Regions from separate parts of the Homo sapiens genome. Here all the other regions are linked to region 1. Evidence: fine-mapped expression QTL. A gene starts in region 1. Each other region holds a variant in brackets. All regions are shown on one strand. Distances are from middle to middle. Region 1 holds the start of TMTC3 (transmembrane O-mannosyltransferase targeting cadherins 3). Region 2 overlaps CEP290 (centrosomal protein 290). Region 3 overlaps CEP290 (centrosomal protein 290).

Region 1 (5,725 bases):
TTAATTTTCTACAGTTTAATGAACAAATGGAATTCATTATTTAATACCATAATAAACTTTTTCCAAGGTGCTTACCAAATTTTGCTTGTTCTTCTCCAGCTTTTTCTACTTCTTCCAAAGCCAGCTCCACTTCTTGAGCTTTCATCTAAACATTAAAAAAAGGTTATTTCAATATGCCTTTATACTGGAATGTAAGCACTGAAAATAAAAATTCTGTTTTATTTGTTATGATCCTTAGTGCCAGCAATGGCTGGCACATGGAGACGTTCAGTAAATATTTGCTGAATAAATAGTTTTTGGTTTTTGTTTTTGTTTTTTTTGCTTTTGAGATAGGGCCTCACTTTGTCACCCAGGCTGGAGTGCAGTGGCACAATCTCAGCTCACTGCAACCTCCTGCCTCCTGGGCTCAAGCAATCTTCCCATCTCAGTCTCCTGAGTAGCTGGGACTACAGGTGCATGCCATCATGCTTGGCGTGCCATCATGCTTGGTGTGCCATCATGCTCGGCAAATTTTTTCGTACAGGCAAGGACTCACTATATTATCCAGGCTAGTCTTGAACTCCCAGGCTCAAGCAATCCTCCTGCCTTGGCCTCCCAAAGTGCTGGGATTACAGACGTGAGCCACCATGCCAGGCAATTTTCTTACTTAAGACTACAATTTCTAGATTTTTAATAGCATGAAACATTTTTGATTCTCCTTTTTACCTCAAGTCCTCAAGTCTTATATCCAGTAATGCAACATCTCCCTTTGTAATGTCTTTCCACTACTTTTTTTCTGTTCCAATTGCTATTATTCTAATCCATAATTTCAGGTTTAAACTCCGCTATAATGTGATGTCTACAAAGCTCCAATTTCCTTCAGTTTGTCCTACATAATATACTCAGTTTTGCCTTCTTAAGGTGTATTTTTGTACCTATCAATTGTGTTTCGAAAACCTTTACTGCCTTCTCAATTGCTGATAGCATAAAATACACCTTTAAGGCCCTCAACAACCTATCTCAAAGTACTTACCCAAGATTTGTTTTCTCTACAGTCTGCTACAAACTTGCTGCACCTTGTTTCCTCAAATATAAAGAATAAACATATTTCCTGTTCTCAGTATTTATTTATGGTAACCAACAGCTCTAGAATTCCCTTACTATCTTACCACTGCATTGCCTTCCACTTATCTAACACTACTCCTCAGTATTGATCCTTTGTGAAGTCTTCTGACATCTCTTAAATCATTTCCCCTCTTAACAAATCCCTATAGCAGTCATTGTCTGCATTTGTCATTTGGACCTCAAGATATATTTCCTTATGTTACTTTTCAACATACTCATTCTATTTCCCCTACACACCCTTTTAGAAACTTTAAGTAGAAACTAGCAATGTTTTATACACTAAAATACTTAATTCACATTTAAATATATTGCATTTTTTAGTGGTGATGTAGATATTACCAGGTATTTTCACAAAGATTACCTTATATAAGAACAGATTTTTATAGTTCCACTAATAGCCAAACCTATAGTTAAAACCTACTACATACAAACCTTCATTAGTGACTGAGTAATTCTGAAAAGGTGTATCACATTTTCTTGCTTTTCACTTTTTAGCTCATTTACTTCCACCTAAGTAAACAGAAAAGCAACTGTTTTATATTTTATAACCTTCAAGCAAAATATAAGAACACTTCCAGATTGTGACAATTATAGTTGTCCCTGAAAAAAATAAATTCATATTTTATTAATAAATTAATCATAAGTTAATGTATATATCTATTATTATTGACCAATTAAGCACCTTGGATAAGGAAATCAATAAATTATCTGCCAGTTCTTCTTGACGGGGCAGGTCATCTGGGTCAACTTTCATTATTTCTTTCCAGTTTATATTAGGTGGCATCTTGAATTCTTTCACTGTGCTCCACCTCTGTAACAAAACAGGTGTATATTAGCATTTTCAAGGTACACAGTATTATTGGTTTTCTAGCACCTTACATTTTTTGCAGATTATTTCATTATAACTTTCTGATGTTAGCAAAACAGACAATTGGGCCACAAAATAGACAAGTGGGCAAAATAGCCTTGATCAAAAATAGCAGTCGGCACAAACTGTCAGAGTGTCCCGGCTAAATAAAATGTGACGGCTTCCTTGCTAACACTAATCTAAGTTAATACTTAAGATTTCTGGATCCCTTCCTCCACACCCCTACCCACAATGCGCGCGAACACCCTAATCCTGGCAAGCGCGAGGGTCTGTGGAAGGCCGACAATCATCCCTGATTTGGAGAAACAGAATTGGGGCTGAAAAAAAACGCAGAAATTAACATTTGGAATGAGTGAAGTTGTGCGGCGGAAACTGGAACCGAAGCAAGGCAGTATTAGGGACCCGAGGCTGGAAGGGCGGGGTAGCTATGCTGTGGCACACGGGCCCTCAGGCTAAAGAACCTGAGCGTGGAGTGACTCGCTAATCCTGCTTACAAGGATCCACCCACCTAGACCAAGCCTGGCAACCAGCGGAGGCCTCTCACTACCGCAACCACCAAGCTGGACCCGGCCGCGGGCCCTGACAGATCCCTATCGCGGTTCCACGCGGACTCTGGGTCCAGCCAAATGGTCCCGAGCAAGCCAAAGCGGCAGCGGCTGCTAGGCGACACCATCCCCAACTCCGCCAAGGCCAGAATAAGATCCCGGATGCCAGGAGAGCCTACAGTTCACGACCGTGGGTGATGCTTTACGTTTAGATTCTCCGCCGGAGTCCCAGAGCTCGGTGTTCAGGATGATGAGAAGGCGTGGAACGAGGACTTCAAATCCCAGAGTGCAGTTCTGCCTGAGGCTTCTGCATGCTGGGAACTGAAGTCCCTGAGAAGAGGAGGTAAGGCGCTCCCGGCATGCAACGCGTAAGACTGCGACGGTACCGGGGCGGCGGGGAAGGACCGAGAGGCGGGAGGAGCAGCGGCTCAGGCGCCTGCAAACTGGTGGCCTGAACGAGGTAGACCATGACTGTGGTTTCAGTGGCGTCACTCGCTGGGCTGCTCTTCCTGAGGTTTTCCTAAGCCATCCCCTGGCGGAACCGCCCCCAGGTGAGGTCGAGCTGTCGGTCAGCATATTGGGAGGAATTGAGGGGAGCAGTCCTGGGTTAGAGAAGCTTCTGCTATTGGGGCCGTAGGGCCTGGTCCCATTCTGAAAAAGTGGGAACACCCTGCCTTCTCTTCAGGCGTTTGCAAGCGGCGTCCAGGGTAGTGCCTTCTGTAAGAAGGAAAAAACAAAAAGTTTTAGCCTTGTTTAGTATCAGAATCTGTCTTGATAGTTAGAGTGAGAGCCGCGCAGCCGTGATCCTCGTTTGGGGGCGAGCGAAGAATTGACAAGAGGTCTCGGCATCCCGACCCCGCCCGCCTTACCTGTAGCACCATTCCTTTCGCGGATCGTGGGGCTTGATGGTTGTGGAGCTAGTATAAAGTCAAGGCTCTAGAGAGGAGAGGTTAGTACTTGTCCGGACCACTGCCGGGGGTGGAGAGAGAAGGGATCCAAGGACTCACCTGTACTATTGTTGCCACTTGCTTGGTTACCTAGGGTGCCCTTCCATGAAAGCGCCTTCTCTGGTGTTTACCACTCTTACTCGTGCAAGTTTTGCTCATCCTGCTCGTCTGCTCACAATCATGCTGGAGTATGATACATCTCTACCTAACTTTCCTAAGAAGCTGTAGACTTAAATCTAAATGACATTTCCAACTATCTGGACCAGTGCTTTGTCTTTTTTTTTTTTTAAACGCTGCTTTAAAAAAAAAATTACTGTACTTGACAGTAAATTTTCCTTTCGAAAATAAGTAATGAGTTTCTTTTTAAACCCCCAATTTGGGTAAAATAAGTAGCTCAGTACAAAATAAAAAGATACTGATTTTGTGAGATGAATTTTAAAGACATTAGTTAGATTTATAGGAATGACAATTTTACTACTTTTCTGAAAGATTATATGCCAAATACTATTCATTATCTTGTTTATTCTTCCTTACAATCCAGTGAAATAGGTGCTTACATTGTCCTCATTTTCCATCTGAGTTAAGAAACTGAGGCTTGGAGAAGCTAAGTAACTTAAATAGTGTGATTGAACACAGATCTCTCTGGCTGGAGGACATATTCTTAACTTCTATACACCTCCTCAGACATTCTGGGAAACCAATATTTGTGAAGTGCTTGTTCCTCAATCTTGCTATTTTTATTAAATGTTATATTTTAATTTTGTAAGTGTTTACTCAATAATTTGAATTAAACATTCTTCATGTTCAGTGTTCTTAATTCATAATTTAACATGGGATGGTGTTTCTGGAAAGGTGTTCTGATCTGGACCCCAGGAGAGGGCTCCTGGATCTCGCCAAGAAAGAATTGGAGGTGCATACACCCCCATTGGAGGTGGTAGACTAAGGATTGTTATAGTTATTTCTTGATTATATGCTAAACAAGGGGTGGGTTATTCATGAGTTTTCTGGGAAGAGGGTAGGCCATTCCTAGATCTGAGTGTTCCTCCCCTTTTTAGACTATATAGAGTAACTTCTTCACATTGCCATGGCATCTGTAAACTGTCATAGCACTGGTGGGAGTGTCTTTTAGGATGCTAATGCATTATAATTAGTGTATAATGAGCAGTGAGAACGAGCAGACGTCCCACCTTTCTCGCCATCTTGGATTTGGTGGGATTTGGCTGGCTTCTTTACTGCATGCTGTTTTATCAGCAAAGTCTTTATGATCAGTATCTTGTGCCCACCTCCTATCTCATCCTGTGACTTAGAATGACTGACAGACATCCTGAGAATGCAGCCCAGTAGGTCTCACCCTTATTTTACCCAGCCCCTATTCAAGATGGAGTTGTTGTGATTCAAATACCTCTGACAATGGTAGGAATGAAATTTAATAGTTACTGAGCACATGTTATGTCATACACTATGCTGACTACTGCGTGTTTGTTTTCATAATAGAAGTCTGTTTTCTCTAACACCTTTTCTTCTGTTTTTTTTTTCATTCGTTATAACTTATTTTTATGTATTCACTTACAAGTTTCGTTTGTCTGTATTACTCTTTTCTACCCTTCTGCCACCACCCTCTTGCTCACATTCATAAACTCAAGGTGCCTGGTCTCTAATGGTAAATTTTATTCTAATTTTTCAGAAGTGAGAACAAGTTCATAGAAGTTAAGTAATAATTGATGAAGCTAAGATTGTAACCTAGATCTCAGTGACAATTGTAACTAAAAGCAAAATCTTACCTAAATTTTATTCTTTAACTCATTCTAACAGTATTTTTTATCCTGTTTCCTGTGCTAGGCACTGGGGATACAGCAGTGAACAAGTCAGCTCTGGCTTGAACAAGTCAACTAAGTTTTTATGCATTGTCGTCTGTACCTAAGTGTGAGTCAGGAAATTTAACTCAGGTTCTAGTTCAATAACTCACTGTATATTTTTGAGGAAAATTGGCAAAACTATTATTTTTCGTCAGATTTTCTGCACCTGTCAGTTTTCATCAAGAAATGGGACTTATGTGACAATGTTGTAAGTGGCCTTGTTATAAGAACACTTGTCTGGACCTGCCTTCTTTCTGCCCTAGGCTTTTGTGAACAGTTTTATCTGACCAAAATCACTTCACAAGAAGGCCTCACCTTTTATTATTGCTTACCTTTGTTCTCTGTAGCAATGAATTTATATTCCTTGGATGTTACTTCTAGTTCCTTTTTGCTGACTTACCAAGA
Region 2 (5,691 bases), 46 kb before region 1:
TTTATTCTATAATTGTATGATAAAACTTATAATATCAAACCTCAGCAAATTTGGTTTCCAATTCAAAATTACGTTCCTCCATTTGCTTTAACGAAGTCCGTAAGTGTTCATACATTTTTTGACAATGTTCAGCCCGCTGCCTTTCATTTAATTCCTTCATTTCCAGCATAGTTATTTTTTTTGAAATGGAAACAATGTCACTGTTGGTTATTGATTTCTTTGCCTTATCCATGCTAGATTCATTACCTACATGCAATAATATTTAAGTCAATCTCATGCTGTTTATATTAAAATTACCTCAGATATTTTAGATGCTGTATATTAGAAAGCATTATAGTTCCATGGAAAGCACATTAGCTTTCTGAATTCCATCAGACCTGGACTCTAATCTTAGCTCTGTTACTTCCTGCCTGTGTGATGCCTGTACCATTTAATCTCTGTGGAACTTAATGTTCTTCATCAATCAAATGATTAAAAAAAAAAACCTATTCCTCACAGAATTGTGGAACTAACAACATAAAGGACTTAGTGTAGAAGTGTCACATATAAGAAATTTTAAAAATGGCAAGTAAACATTTTACTGAAAGGAGATAAACTGTATGAGAAGCAATGCAGTAAAGCAATGTGACTTTGTGAATATAAGTGCAATGACTTGATTTTTAAAGTCTCACAAAGCCAAGCTGAAAAGTAAAATCTGAAGCCATATGATGGATAGATTCTACCAAATATAATCTTGTCTAATCATGAGTATTATTTGGTCTTTGTACAGACCTAATATCAAATATTTTACATTCTTTTATTAGTAGTTATGCCTTAACCTTATATATGCAGTTACGCAGCTTGTCTTTGGACACAAAAGTCTGTGGCTAAATGGAAAGAGAACTAAAAGCCTCAATTTACCATAAAAAGGCATCGCATAGGAGTGTCATTAGTCATTTTTTGAGGGGGGGGGAAGAAAACATACTTTTGCTTTGTAAACATGGTCTAGAAAAAAAACAAAATTTGGTAGAGTGTTTTGCTTTTCAGCAACTTAAAACTGATGTGTTTAGGGTAGCCAATTACTTAAAGGAACTAAGCAGCAACTCACTTTGTAAACAGCCTTTTACAATACCAATAATGCCCCCTCCTGTTTTTCCAGCTTCATAAGTTCAAGTTTTATAACTGAGTTTTCTCAAAGTAATATACATTTCCTGAAAAAAAAATTGGTCTCTATCTCAGTTTTAAAAAGTACTTCATTATGTTCTGTATTTATCTTTAAAATGTATTATTTTAGAATAGCTGTGGCAAGCAGTAATCAAGTAACTAACAATAATGGATCACTAACAGGTGCTAAAAGCATTAGTAAATCAGTTCATTATGGAATAAAGACTCATTCAAGTAACCTTAGGCACCATGTAGAAAAATACTGCAATAAATACCAATATATAAAGGAGTCCTTCTCCATTCTGTATTGTGCTAAACTCTGATTAGAAGAGAAAAGCACATCACAAAGGCTGAAGCAGACTAGCCATCTTGTATGTTTTTGGGTTTGGAGTTTTCTTAAAGAGAGGGTAGAGCACAACAGCCCAACACTAACAAATTCCTAGATGAAAAAAAGCTAATGATGTGACATTTTTAAACAAAGATATAAGGGCAACAGGGAATAGGGAAACACTCTTAAAACTTCGGTGATATAAATCCATATATGAAAGAGATCAAGATATGTAAAAATTAAAGAATTTCTGTAGGGAATTCAGCATTTATTAAAAATAAAGATGATAAAATAAAAAGAACCTACTAAAATTGTACGTAATACTCTCATGTCTTCATTTAAATGGTACCTTCTTCCATGCAAATACTACACAAAAGTCAATTCATATTTAATCTCTTATTGAGCTAAAAATTACATTTCTAAAAGTAGCTTATGTAAGATTTCCCAGTGTTAGGCTTCTCTAAACCAAGTATCTCATTACCAATTTAAGAGAACAGCTCTATTTAGTAATAAAAACCTTGAATAGCTCTAACGTCTAGGAAACAAATACATGAAAATACATTATCGAAAGCAGCAAATTTATTTGAAAATTATGAAGCACAATATATGAGATAAAATTATGAAAATCTTATAAACTATATAACTGTTTGAAAAATTAATATGGAAAACTCTAATGAGAGCAACAAAGATTTCAATACCTTCTGAGACAGTAATATCTCTGTTAGATATACATGAAAATGTTCACTGTGGCACTATAAGCAATAGCAAAAATATAAAAAGCTAGTGATTTAATCACTCAAACACATTAGGCTATTGTATAAGTATTTATAAGTATGATGAATAAAACAAATTTTTTTTTTTTTTTGAGACGGAGTCTCACTCTTATCGCCTAGGCTGGAGTGCTGTGGTATGATCTTGGCTCACTGCAACCTCTGACTCCTAGGTTCAAGCAATTCTCCTGCCTCAGCCTCCTGAGTAGATGGAATTACAGGCAACTGCCACCACGCCTGGCTAATTTTTGTACTTTTAGTAGAGATGGGGTTTTGCCATGTTGGCCAGGCTGGTCTCGAACTCCTGACCCCAGGGGATCTGCTCTCCTCAGCCTCCCAAGTGCTGGAATTACAGGTGTGAGCCACTGCGC[C/T]GGCCATAAAAATATTTTTGATATTACTATCTAAATACAGTATAAAACCATGTTTATAATAATTTAAAATATATAAAATATGTAAGCATATAGGAGCAAAAATATACAGTAATATAGTAGTAAAACTATGAGAAATACAACTTCTTTTCACATTTTCTTTGCTGTTTCCTGGTATCTTTTAATTTAAAAATATCAAGTGATATATAACTAATATAACTTGCACTCAGTGAAAGAACTCATAATACCATTAATAAAATATCATCAGTTTTAATTGTTAAACGGTTCAAAGTAGCTAATACTTAGTCATAAATTTTTAACATATATGATTTCATTAGAAACAAATCTAACTTAAGGACTGAAAACTAAACTTTGGTGGGGTTAAGTACAGGATTATTCATCTGCCTAAGTTAAATTATTAGGCAGAAAGTTCTTTCTTTTTTTAGTCAAAATACTTCCTTTTAATCTAGCATAAAAAAGGAACTTTAAATAAGAAATATTCATTATTAGATGTTAATCATTTTATATTATCAGAGTCATAAAACTTACCTAATTTAGTTTCCTGTTCCCAGGCTTGTTCAATAGTGTGAAGTTTTTCCTTGGTAATCTCCAGTTCTTTATTTATAGACTCCACTTGTTCTTTTAAGGAGATGTTTTCACACTGAATAAAGGAAAAATATCACTAAGAAACTACATTGTAATTCAGACCAATACCACAAAATGACATTGTCTTAACTTTATATAACATCTCCTTAAAACTCACAATCCAGTTTTTTACAAAATTAGAATTTCCTCCATATATAATACATGTATGCATACAAACACATACATATATATATAATACTTGTATACATATACATACTGATATGGTTTGGCTGTGTCCCTACCCAAATCTCATCTTGAATCATAGTTCCCATAATCCTCATATGTCATGGGAGGGATTTGGTGGGAGGTAATTGAATCGTGGGGGTGGTTTCCCCCACGCTATTCTCATAATAGTAAGTTCTCACGATGTCTGATGGTTTTATAAGGGGCTTTCCCCTTTGCTCGGCTCACATTCTTCTAATTCCGGCCACCATGTGAAGAAAAATGTGTTTGCTTCCCCTTCTGCCATAACTGTTAAGTTTTCTGAGGCCTCCCCAGCTCTGTGGAACTGTGAGTCAATTAAACCTCTTTCCTTTATAAATTACCCAGTCTCAGGTATTTCTTCATAGCAGCATGAGAACGGACTAATACACATACATACATATATATATACACACACACACACATACACACACACACACACACACACACACACATATATACAATGTAAAATATTATTTTAAAATAATCATCCAAATCCTGTGTTATCCAATATACGGCCTCAATTTCTGAGTATTAGCTTCTGCCACTAAAGCTGTACATTCATTTTGGCCAAAACTCTTAGAATACTCAAGAGTTTTGCAGCCTTCACAAACTAGTGCTTACTTCCTTCATGCACACAGTTGCTGAGCATCCTAGTGTGCCATCAGTGACAGATGATGATGTTTACAGTGAAAAGAAATATAAAATTCTGGCCTTCAGAGTTCTGCCCATTCAGTGCCTATGTGTGTGTGGGTGGGTGGCAGGATTTCGCCAGAGTGTGGAAGGCAGCAGATAATAAGCAAGTAAACAAACAAAAAGTCTACTAAAAATGTCAATGTTGGCCGATTACGGTGGCTCACACCTGTAATCCCAGCACTTTGGGAGGCTGAGGTGGGTGGATCACTTGAGGTCAGGAGTTCGAGACAAGCCTGGCCAACACAGTACTAAACATAGTGCTAAAAATACAAAAATTAGCCAGTCATGATGGCACTTGCCTGTAATCCCAGCTACTCAGGAGACTGAGGCAGAAGAATCCCTTTAACCTGGGAGGTGGAGGTTGCAGTGAGCTGAGATCACACCACTGCGCTCTAGCCTGGGCAACAGAGCAAAACTCCATCTCAAAAAAAAAAAAAAGTCAGTATCGACCAGGTGCAGTGGCTCACACCTGTAACCCCAGCACTTTGGGAGGCTGAGGTGGGAGAATCACTTGAGTCCAGGAGTTTGAGACCAGCCTGGGCAACAAAGTGAGACCTCATCTCTACAAAAAAACACAAAAAATTAGCTGAGCATGGTGATGCATACCTGTAATCCCAGCTATTTTGGAGGCTGAGGTGGGAGAATTACTTGATCCCAGGAGGGCAAGGCTGCAATGAGCTATGATTGTGCAACTGCACTCGAGCCTGGGCAACAGTGAGACCCTGACTCAAAAAAAAAAAAGTTGACATTTAGAAAGAAAATAAAAACAGAGTACTGAGCCAGTGAATAATAGAAAGGAACATTTAGATAGAGCGGTTGAAGGATGTCTTAACCACCAAATAATTGATATTTAAGCTGAACTGTGAGGTACGAAGTATTTATTAGTAAACCCAGATGCTCCAAAGGAAGAAAGCATTTGGAATACTATAAGATCTGAGAGGAAAAAATGATTGAAATGATTGGAGCAGGAAATGATTTGGAGGACTGGAGCACCCAAGCAGAGTAAGCAAAAATAAGAGTCAATAGTAGTAAAACATGAAGTTGGAGAGACCATCAGGGGCCACACCAGGCAGGGCATGGCATGCCAAGACAAGGAACTGGAATTTAACTTAACGTATAAAAGAAAACAATTTAAAGATTTTAAGGAGGAAGTTTTAAACAATCATTCTGGCTGCACTGTGGAGAATAAAGGGGTCAATAGAGAAATCAGGGAAACTAGCCAGAAAGACATTGTGGAACTCCAGATGAGTGATGATGCTGGTTTGGACAAGGGTTAGAGCTGCGAGGATGAAGAAGACACACATAAATTACATTTGGAAAACAAAAATGGTAGGGAAAAAGAATGACTACAGAATAACTCTAAAGTATCTGCCTTGACTAGCTGGTTAGGTAACTGAACATATATTGAAATAAGAATGACTAGGAGAGAAACAGAAATCAGGAGTTCATTGTGGACACGTTAAATTTGAGATCCCCTTGAAACACAGGAATTGTAAAGTAGGTAATTCTGTACAACAGAATAGAGCTGTGAGGAAAAAGG
Region 3 (5,159 bases), 28 kb before region 1:
GCATTTTCTCATAAAGCATTCTTTTTAAAAAATTAAAAATTTCCTATTAAATCTACATTCTTATGTTTAGCATTTTCTTTTATTTAATAAAATTCTCACCTTTAAATTAGCTTTTGCCAACTGCTGTGAATAATTTATAGCCTCTTTCCGAGATTCCCTGAGCTCCTGTCTTAATTCTTCATTTCTTCCGGTAAGCTGATCAACTTGGGCTTTCAAATGCAGACTCGCATCAAAGATTCCTTCTGCATTCTTTGATTCTATAGCCTAGCAAATTTATATTATATATTAGAAATGTGGAGAAAAACAGTAAAATCATAGTAAAAAACAGTCTGTCTTTAAATAAAATGGACATTTAAGCATTTTCCTATTTTCATTGCCAAGCATGATAATAAAGTATGCCAATTCAAATTCTTATTTATGAATCTATAAAACTTTCATTTACATTACCAAGCATAGTAATTACTTCATTAAAACAATTAAAAAACACCTAGCTAATCTTAATAGACTGGTAGACTAGAAAAACAACCAGACGGGAATAAGATGACCAGGGTTCAAATTTTAATCAGTCACTTAACAGCTGGGCAAGTGACTTAAATTCTCTGTATCTTAGTTTTCTTGTCTCTAAAAGGGGAAAACAATGTGAGCTCTGCTCCCTACATGGGGTTTTTGTACAGTCAAAATGAGGTATTTTTCTCTGAAATTATATAGCACCTGCATTCAAAGCATGCGCAAAGGAATGGAATACAATATTGAACAATTGATCAATACAACATTCAATTAAGTGAATTTTTCAGTGCTTCCTCTCCACATAGTTGAAGCATAAATAAAAATAAAGGCAAGGTATCATAACATGATATTATCTAAGAATAATGAGTAAGCAAAAATAATATGTCAAATATTAAAATATTATCAGAGTGGCATCACTGGCCCGAAATCTCCAACAGTGGCATATCTAAGTATATACACACAATGCACACATCTAATAAATATATTTGGACTTTAGATGAACTGTATGGAAAAAACTGTTAAAGGCAAAGTAAGTCTTAAAAAGTGAAGGTAGAAGCCAAATAAGGTAAAATGAATAGAACCAAATGCAATCTCCTACTCAGGAAGGTGATCTGGGGTTTAACTCTAGGTAGTAGATTTGTAAAAGCCTTCCCCTGAAGGAGATTAGAGCAGGTCATGCAGAGTAATAACTTATACTAACTCAAAGAGGATATAAGGAAGATAAAAGTAGGTAGAGGAAGGTACTCTGACTGACAACAAGGTGGTCTAGTTAGTTGTCTCATTGAGGAATAGTGCCGTGTCTACATGGACTTTGGTAAAATGAGAATGAGTTAAGATAGCTGTTGGGGGCACTGAAAAATACCTTGTAGTAACAAAAAGTGAACTGAAGTGCATAATCCAGCATTGTCTGGTCTAAATTGTCATGGATTCTGAAGATTTCTTAGAGAAGTATTGCTAGGTGATTTGTGAATTTCAGATAGGGCCTATGAATCTGAAAAAACAATGACAATCCCGGATAAAAGTAAATGAAGTCTATGCAAACAGTGGCTTCAGGAAGGTCCAGAGATTGTCAACATAAATAGAAGTTAGGATTTCTTGGGCTATTCACTGTGTTTTCATTTGGTCACTAAGTAGAGCTGCCCTTGGAAAATTAAGTTTGATCTGGGACACAGTATCAGTAGTGGGCATCATCACGGACAAAAGATGTTCACATAAAAAAAGCATAAAGAATCATTTTAGACATTCAAAGTGGCAGAGGCAAAACAAAATCACCAATCAGAGAAGGAAAGTCAGTATGAGAAAGATATAATGGGAATCAAATTATTTTCTTGCCTCAGGAAGTTTTTAACATACCAGTATCACTCTCATTCTCTGTTAACAATTATAGTGTTATTTTAAAAAGTATCCAATTACTGATTAATCATGATTTTTTTAAAAAAACAATTCAATAAATAATAAGAATTTTTTTCCCATTTGAAATCAAGCACAAATTTGGGAAATAATATGACAATGTACGCTAAATATGTTCAGATAACATAAATGACATATACTTAAATATTAACAATCTAAAATGTGTATATTATTCAAGTTTATATACAGATACTGAATCCTGTGAAATTCTCAAGTCCCTATATGGTAAATATATATAGAATATTAGTGATGGCTAAATCTTTCTTGTAGCAATGAGTAAATCTTTAAACATTTAGAATAAAGCCATTTCATAATACTTCTGATGGCATAAGTTCCTAAGAGATCTACACTCCCATAAATAAAAAATGAATGAAAAAAAACTACCTAGATGTTCTAGAAAATGAACAAAAGCAAGCAGATTTTGGGAAAAAACCCCTCAAATACGGAAGACAGGACCAGCAAAGATTGACTTTGCCATTTTTAAAGATTTAGTCATAGGGCAGGGTGCAATTGCAGAGATCTATCATCTTTCTCATCTAGAAAACCACAGGATACAGCCCAAAGCCATGGGATAAGTGAAAGGAAAATCCCAATAAGAAAAGAGTCAGCAAAAACGAGCTCCAAAGTCGGTGTAAAAAACTCCTCAAGGTCTCAAGCTGACCCTTGAACCAAAAGAACACAGATAAAGAGGAAAATGTCAGTGAACTTGAAGACAGATTAATAACAATTATCCAATTGGTAGAAGAAAAGTATTGAAAGCAGCTCAAGAAAAACTACACTTTACATACAGGGAAACAATGATTCAAATGACTAAAAATATCTCATCAGAAACTATGGAGATCTGTACACAGCAGAAAATCTCTCTAAAGTGATAGGGGAAAAACATTAACATGAAAAAAATAACTTACATTAACTAGTCTTTCAAGGCTAGGGATAATTAGAGATGTTTCTCCTCCTTTAACATCAGGA[T/C]CTTTCTGCATTTCCTTAATTGCTTGCAATATTTCTTTCATACCTTCTTCAAGTTGCTTATTTTCTTCAACTAATTCTTTTACTGTAATTACACAGTTTTCTCATTGGATGATCAGATCTTTTTCACAATTTACACTATGCTATACAGATGACAAATATTTCACATATACCAAAGACATCATTGGAAAAATCCAAATGTAAATAAACATACAAAAAAATTCAACTATAAATCCAACGTGAATAGTTGAGTTAAATGACAGACCTATTTATATCACGTGCATATACACACGTATATAAGGCATACTTCTGCCTTAACTTAAACTATGCTTTATATTAAAGTATTTTAAATTTGGTGTTCTAACTTCATTTTGATTGAAGAACACACAAGAAAAAGGAGTTATATATTCTCACAAAAAATTCATATTAGTAACATTCTCTCACAATGAAAACAGCAAGGCAAATCAACTGGATAGTGACAGACTGAAGTATATACAGTACAGAGGTAATTAGGAGTAAAGCAGATTAGAAAACAGAGAATGTGTTAACGCCCTTTTAGGCCCATGATTTTAAGTATAGGAAAAATAAGAACAGAAAAGTAAAAGATAATTGTAACTTACATTTATTCTGAAATTTGGCTATCACTGTCCTACTCCTTTCTAAATCTCTTTCTTTTTCAATTAGTTCTCTTGAAAGAAATTCATTCTGAAAAAAGCAGAGAGAATAAAATTGATTTTTTTCAACAAAATATCACAAGTCTATAATTTTCAAGTTAAGAAAAGTTTGATCAATTAAGTATAACAAAACAAAACAAAAAAAACGAGCTATGAAGACATAGCAGCAATCATAAAAATAAACTAAAATCTAAACAGTAAAGCAGATGGTGATCTTAATCCCACTTTCTCCCTCTCCCAACATCCATGGTAAGAGGCAAAAAGATATAACGGTTTTTGTCTTTAGTACCACAATCATCTCTTTTAATGTTCTGCCTTTACACTACCTGTTCTGCCTGGCTTCTGTGATGTTCAAGCTCTATATCTGCATTTCTACACTCTGCTTCTTTGATCAAGAATTCCTGTGCTATGATTTCATTCTAAAGAAAAATTTAATAAATTAGACAAGTCAATGAGTTCATATCAATGTACTGCATTTTAGATTTTAAAAAGTACAATGTGTATAACTGATGTTAAAGTGCAAACAAAAATATTCTAACTATAATTGTTACAGAACTTTGTTAGAGACGTCATAAAAGAACAACCACAGAAATATAATTTGGAGAAAAACTCACCTGAGATCTAAGAAATACTAGCTCTCTCCGTAACTGTTCTATAAGATTTTCAAGAGAATTTATCTGAGATAATTTTGATTGTGCAGTAATAGACACAGGGTCTGGAAGATTAACCTTAAGCTTATTTTTCAATATCTCTGTCTGTAAGGGTACTTCACTTTTTATTATATCTTCTTTCAAATTGATATCAGCATACTTTACTTGGGAATGAACCTGTTCTTCTTCTAATGTTGCTACTTGTGATTTATCCATGTCAGCTCTATTTTCATGAATTTGTTGACAAAATATTGCAGATTTTTGCCTAAGTGATAACTTCTGCATTATGTCTGAAGCTGTTGATAAGCCATGAAAAGATGAATTGCTTTTTTGTACAAAACTAGTCTTCTCTAGTGCTTGATGGCTTCTTGACACCTTCTTCATACAGTCATCAGAAAAAAGGCATATGTCATTTATTTCTTCATGGCTTTCCCTACTAAAGGTGCTGACTAACGATTCTAGATTTCTTGAAGACTGCAGACATGGTGCTTTAAAAATCTCTCTTATTGTAATAGTTTCTGGAGTTGAATTCTCTTTAACTTGCATGGATGAAGAAAGTCTAGTTAAAGGGACAAAAGGATGCATTCCACTTTCTACACTATGGTGAATTTCAGATAACATTCTTGATAATGATCCTATGGTCATATTCTCTTCTGTCTCATTCTGATCTGACTGTGGGGTATTGAATGATGATCTCCTATGCAGCAGCTCTGCTTTATCTGAACTCCTAATCTGTATTCAGAGTAAATAATGTCTCATTAATCAATCTTTGAATCAACAGGTTAAATAAGCAAATATTTCCCTCTACTTATTTAACAACAATAATAAGATTAGATGTTCAAGAATGAGATAAAGGGGGAAGAAATGAAAACACAATAAAAATATTTTCCTGGCCGGGCGCGGTGGCTCACGCCTGTAATCCCAGCACTTTGGGAGGCCGAGGCGGGCGGAT

What was found. PIP is the estimated chance that this variant, and not a neighbour inherited with it, causes the effect. A credible set is the group of variants that fine-mapping cannot tell apart.
Region 2: its variant is the best candidate, but not a certain one, in a credible set for the expression of TMTC3 in visceral fat (GTEx, PIP 0.72).
Region 3: its variant is the best candidate, but not a certain one, in a credible set for the expression of TMTC3 in thyroid (GTEx, PIP 0.62).

What each region holds. Positions count from the first base shown.
Region 1 is chr12:88,139,420-88,145,144 of GRCh38, forward strand. TMTC3 (transmembrane O-mannosyltransferase targeting cadherins 3) reads left to right here and starts at 2,888. Exons shown (of 14, transcript NM_181783.4): 1 at 2,888-3,068. It overlaps CEP290 (centrosomal protein 290), which reads right to left and starts at 2,669. Exons shown (of 54, transcript NM_025114.4): 1 at 2,481-2,669; 2 at 1,787-1,915; 3 at 1,537-1,614; 4 at 76-145. The coding sequence starts at 1,888. RefSeq lists enhancers at 2,509-2,948, 2,755-3,258.
Region 2 is chr12:88,093,730-88,099,420 of GRCh38, forward strand. It overlaps CEP290 (centrosomal protein 290), which reads right to left. Exons shown (of 54, transcript NM_025114.4): 27 at 3,159-3,270; 28 at 41-246. Among named protein-coding and RNA genes, the nearest start is that of CEP290, 46 kb to the right of the region's middle. The variant C/T (reference allele first, on the strand shown) is at 2,613.
Region 3 is chr12:88,111,595-88,116,753 of GRCh38, forward strand. It overlaps CEP290 (centrosomal protein 290), which reads right to left. Exons shown (of 54, transcript NM_025114.4): 19 at 3,504-3,588; 20 at 2,826-2,968; 21 at 100-264. Among named protein-coding and RNA genes, the nearest start is that of CEP290, 28 kb to the right of the region's middle. The variant T/C (reference allele first, on the strand shown) is at 2,887.